Linked DNA regions of Homo sapiens: region 2 is linked to region 1. Evidence: fine-mapped expression QTL. A gene starts in region 1. The other region holds a variant in brackets. All regions are shown on one strand. Distances are between the middles of the regions.

The links.
Region 2: its variant is fine-mapped to the expression of BEND2 in whole blood (TOPMed, PIP above 0.99).

Annotation. Positions count from the first base shown.
Region 1 is chrX:18,219,732-18,222,649 of GRCh38, reverse strand. BEND2 (BEN domain containing 2) reads left to right here and starts at 1,764. Exons shown (of 14, transcript NM_153346.5): 1 at 1,764-1,924. The coding sequence starts at 1,900.
Region 2 is chrX:18,251,508-18,254,425 of GRCh38, reverse strand. All of the region lies in intron 11 of SCML2 (Scm polycomb group protein like 2), which reads left to right. Among named protein-coding and RNA genes, the nearest start is that of BEND2, 32 kb to the right of the region's middle. The variant C/T (reference allele first, on the strand shown) is at 1,730.

The DNA.
Region 1 (2,918 bases):
AACCCAACCTTGCAACTTCACGAACTTGCTGCAAATATGCCCTCTTTAAAGTACTGGAAATCTGCCCTCTCCTGCAGGAGAAAGCTACACTTTGCATCAATGTCCTCAGAGAGCACAGGTCAACCAGGAGGCAAAAAAACTCTTTCCTCCTACATTCTCCTTTTAGCACCTTCTACTGCCAAAGGCTTAAATTGTGTCACTGGCAAAGGGAAAAATATTTAAAGGGCCCACATCCATTTTCACAGAGTCGGCAAAAGTGGGTGAAGTTGGAGGTGAGAGGTAACACATTGGTAACCAGCACAGTGTATCCATTTCAGCCCTCAGTTTCTCTATGCATCCTCCTACACATATGTACACTCTGGAACGATAGCAAAACAAGTCTGTGTTTCTACCTAACAATATACACCTTTGCTTCTCACAAGTAAAGAAATTCTTACCCTTCCCCCAAATGAGGAGACACACAGTCACAAGAGTCATTGTGTAACTGACACAGTGAAGAAATGGATCCCAAATTCCAGGCACTGGGTGCTTTCTATTTTATAACATTTAATTCTTAGAATCTTGTGAGGGAGGTGGTGTTCAAATATAAATAAGACATGGTGCTGTCCTCCAGGAACTTAGGAGAGAGGCATGTTGACGAGGATTTATAATGTCAGGCAAAGTAATTTAAATACTAATAGGGACGTGAAGATTACCTGCTGTGGGATCCTTCTTACCAGGGGGCTATAGGAAAGTGTCTTGATGGAGGTATTATTCGAACAGATGTAGTACCGAGAGAGGTTTTGAAAGATGTGAAGACAATAGTAAAGACATGGAATCAATCTAGGTGCCCATCAATGGTGGACTGAATAAAGAAAATGTGGTACATATACACCATGGAATACTATGCAGCCATAACAAAGAACAAAACCATGTCCTTTGCAGCAGCATGTACACAGCTGGAGGCCTTTCTCATAAGTGAATTAACACAGAAACAGAAAACCACATACCGAATCTTCTCACTTGTAAGCAGGAGCTTAAAGATCCGGTACACAGGGACACAAAGATGGAAACAATACACTGCAGACTACTAGAGGGGGCAGGAAGGAGGGGAGGGGTTGCTAGGTATTTATTAGGGGCACATTTTCAAAGTTGGCTTGTTTTCGGATTTGTTCCCAAAGCCGGTATCGGATATGAGGAAGCAACCTGGAAAACACTAGAGGGTCTGAACGAGGAGGAAGAGAAACACGTAGGGTGTTGGGAACAGAGGCGGAAGTTGGGAGATCCTGCGAAATCGGAGTCCCTTTGGAGTGGGGGAGGCCATCGAGGTGTGCGAGGGCCCGGCCCCCTTGCCGCGTGGTCGTTAAGAGGAAAGGCCCTGATTTGGCTGGTGGCGGATCGCCTCCCTCCCGGCTCTCCCCGAGTGCGGCAAAGGAAGGGCTGCCTTTGAGAGTCCCGCAGGAAGATTTAGAAAGTCTCTTACATTGGACTTTTTTTTTATGATGTGCGTTTTGGGACGAGCAGAATTACACTGTTGGCTTCCAGTTCATTATCTCTATCTCTATCTCTACTTCTGTATCTATATCTACATATATTCACACACACATATATAGTACAAATATATATATACATACATATGTATATTTTTGTAAAAGGGACTCTTTAAGAAAGTAGGTCAAAAGTGGGGGAGAGGGCGAGGCCCTTTGACCCCCAGGAGTCACGCACGCATGCCAAGCGCTACTGCGCAGCCGCGGAGACGTGGTCCAGGCTCCTGCCCGGGCCTCATTGTGCCTCGGACAACGAGTGTACGCAGTTACCACACAGTTACCAAGCAGTTACCTCAGAGCCGCGGCGCAGACGTAGGCCTCAGGTCTCGGGCCTCAGGTCTCGGGCCTCAGAGCCAGACCCCGCCATCTCACGATGTCAGAGAGGACCCAGGAACAGGGTAAAGTGACCTCGCCTCAACTGGCCCGCTAGCTTGGGCCTCAAGTTCTGTCAAGAGTCTGGATGGCACCCACTTAGGTGGCCATTCAGGGGCGGCAGGATTGGCTAGTCATTGACCGGGGCGTGTCGGGGGGCGGCCTCTGGGTATTGGCCATCTGCCGCCGATTGCTCAGCGCGCCGGTGGGAAATTTGGCGTGGTGGACCGAGATGGCCCAGGGTTCAGGTCGTCTCAGGGGCTCAAGATGTCCCGGAGACGTGAGGTGATCCTGAGGCTCATGGCGTCTCCGTGGCTCTTGGTGGCTCAGGGTTGGGGTGACTTGGGCTTGTGCCGAGAGTGCGTCAAGAGGCTGGGCCTGGTTGCCCTCTGGCCCGCGGTTCTTTCCGGAGCCTCGAGTGGCTGGGAAACAATCTCGGCGCTCGCGACGCCGGGCTCCGGCGATACAGATCTATGCGGCCGCACTTTTTCTTGAATTTATTGGTTTTCCCTGGTGGGCAGCCGCGGAACACAGCCCTGTTCAGCGTTTTGGCATAGCGGCTGGGGCACAGCCTCAAATTCCGGGTGTTCTGAGGGGGTGCTTTGGGTGGTACCCGCCGCCTCTCCCGGGGTGCCCGCGTGGGTTACATTTTGAGATTTCGAAGCTTATTAGATACTTGATGCTGACTTTCTGGGACGAGCTTATCCTTTTTCAGCTGTTCTCTTTTTGGTGAGGCGGGGTATGGGGGGGCGAGGAATGAGGAATGACTCAGACTTTCACAGAGGTTTTTTGTTGTTGTTTTTTGTTTTTGTTTTTGCTTGGTTTTGTTTTGTTTTGTTTTGTTTTCAGACAGAGTCTTGCTCTGGTGCCCAGGTGGGAGTGCAGGGGCGCCATGTCGGCTCACTGCAGCCTCCGCTTCCTGGATTCAAGCGGTCCTCTCACCTCAGCCTCCTGAGGAGCGGAGACTACAGGCGTGCACCACCACGCCCGGCTAATTTTTGTATTTTTTGTTGAGACGGG
Region 2 (2,918 bases), 32 kb before region 1:
GTCACAGAAAGCTTAATTTAGCCATTTGAAAATGGCTTTGAGTTGGAACTCTTATGTTTTTCTTAAGTCAGCTTGTAGTTAAAGAAGTTGCATATAAATGCTATGAGGTTATTACTAAGATTTCACGTCTAGTATCCCATTTCTCTTACATTTTTTAAAATAAGTGACTCAAAAATAGTTTAAGATAGAGTGCTCTTCTTAGGAGACTTTGATTCTGACAAATCTAGTGTTTGCATATTTTAGCAGTAATTTTGAAGACATTTTACTGAAGTATAGTATACATAGAGAAAATTATACATGGAATGTAGCTTGATTAATTTTCATGCCTGTATAATCAGTCACTGGTTGGAAAAGTAGCTATTACTAGTACCCTAGAAGCACTGCTAATGTGTCAAACCCCCTTTAATCCACTACTACCCCTCACTTCGCACAAGGATACCTACTGTCCTGACTTCTAGTACCATATATTACTTTTGCCTATTTTTGAACTTTATAGAAATGGAATTATACAGCATTTACTCTTGTGCCTAGCTTTTTTGGCCTATCATTATGTTTGTAAGTTTCATCTGTATTGTTGCATATAGTTAGATCATTCATTCTCATTGCTGTATAATATTCTGTTGTATAAATATGCTACCATGGTATGTATCCATTTGAGTGCTTTCTGTTTTGTGCCCTTATAAATAGTGTTATGTTTTGTACTCTTATAAATAGTGTTATCATGAACATTCTATACACGTCTTTCTGTTCCTGTATCTATCTTGGAGGGAATTGCTAGGTCACAGGAAATGCATAGATTAAGCTTTAGTAGATACTGCCAAACAGTTTTTCAAAGTGGTTGCCTCAGTTTACTTTCCTATCAGCTCTCTGCTTTTTTAAATAGATTATAATTCTTAGGTGAAATTTTTTATTCTTTGATCTTTTCTGTCCATTTTTCCTGTTTTCTTGAACATATTCATCAAAATTGCGTTATAGTCTTTGTCTACTGACACCAGTAGTTTTTCTCTCAATAGTTGGTTATATGGTCTTACTTCTTTGCATGTTTACCACTATTTTTTTGTATATGGGACATTGTATATAAAAGATCTGCAGAAGCTCCAGATTTCTACCTTAAAAAGTTTCCTCTTTTTTAAGCAGAAAGAAGGAGGGCTCATTCCATTCAGTGATTGAGCTGGGTTGGGACTGAATAGCAGTTTTAGTAAGACTCAGTCTATCTCCTGATTCCTCGCTATTCTTCAGGTGTTACTTTCCCAGGATTTTGATTGAGAACCTGGGAATTCCCTAGCTCCTTAGCCTTGAAAGACTGGGGAATTGTACTTCCCTTCTTCAGGGGTTTGCTGCTCAGCTCTTTAGCCTTCTTCCTCATGTATTATCACAACTTTGCACCTGTGTTTAGGTGGCTTGTGTGTTTGCCACAAACACACAATAAAATAAAGACCCCCTGGTGGGTCTTTATTTCTTAAGCATCATGAGACTGTGAGAGATTTCAGCGTGCCTTTTAAGAGTTTTCAGCCTAACTCCCCAGCTTCCTGTATAGCTCCAGAACTTGGCAAATATCCCATGGGGGAAAACCAGCTGAGTTTGAGTTTCTGATTTGTCACTCCAGCTGTGTGAAGCTGCTAAATCTTTTTTGATTTATTTTTGCCTAGGTATGGCCCTCTGCCTGTGTCAAGTTCTATTTTCACTGTAGTGCCAAGAATCAGCAGATTCCTACAGGGAAAAAATATGA[C/T]GAAATCTTCAGTTTAGACTAGAATGGTTCTTCCCTTCTGGAATTGGATTTTATTAGTTCCTATGACTGCTATACTTTGAGGATGCTTTTCTTATAGTAACTTTATTGAGATATAATTCACATACCATAATTTCACCCTTTTAGAAGTATACAATTCAGTATTTTTTAAGTGTATTCACAGAGTTGTGCAGTCATCACCACTGTCTTCATCACCCCCAATAGAAATCCCATACCTATTAACTATCATCCCTCAATGTCTTTTCCCCCTCACCACTGGATACCATTTATTGACTTTCTTCTGTCTTTATAGATTTTCCTATTCTAGACATTTCATATTAATAGAATCATATAATATGCAACCTTTGTGTGTGGCTTCTTTCACTTAGCATAATGTGTTTTGTTGTTTGTTTGTTTTGTTTTTTTGAGACGGAGTCTCGCTCTGTTGCCTAGGCTGGAGTGCAGTGGTGTGATCTTGGCTCGCCACAACCTCTGCCTCCTGGGTTCAAGCTATTCTCCTGCCTCAGCCTCCTGAGTAGCTGGGACTACAGGTGCACACCACCATACACAGCTAATTTTTGTATTTTTAGTAGAGACGTGGTTTCACTATGTCATCCAGGCTGGTCTCGAATTCCTGACCTCAAGTGATCTGCCCATCTTGGCCTCCCAAAATGCTGGGATTACAGGTGTGAGCCACTGTGCCCACCCTATGTTTTCAAGGTTCACCCATGTGGTAGCATGTATCAGTGCTTCATTCCTTTTTATGGCTGAATAATATTCTATTGTATGGCTATATTATGTTTATCCATTTATCAATTGATGTACTTCTGGATTGTTTCCACTTTTTGGCTATTAGGAATGCTGCTGCAATGAACATTTGTATATAAGTTTTTGTGTGGATACGTGTTCTCTCAGGTACAAACCTAGGAGTGGAATTGTTGGGTCATATGGTTAACTCTGTTTAACTTGATGAGGACCTGACAGACTTTTCCAAAGAGGTTATACCATTTTACATTTTCATCAGCAGTGAATGAAAGTTTCAATTTTTCCTTTTAAACACTTGTTATTGTCCATCTTTTTCATTATACCCATTCTAGCAGGTGCGAAATGGTATCTCATTATGGTGTGATTTGCATTTTTCCAGTAGTTGATGATGAGCATCTTTTCTTATGCTTTTTGGCCATTTGTATAT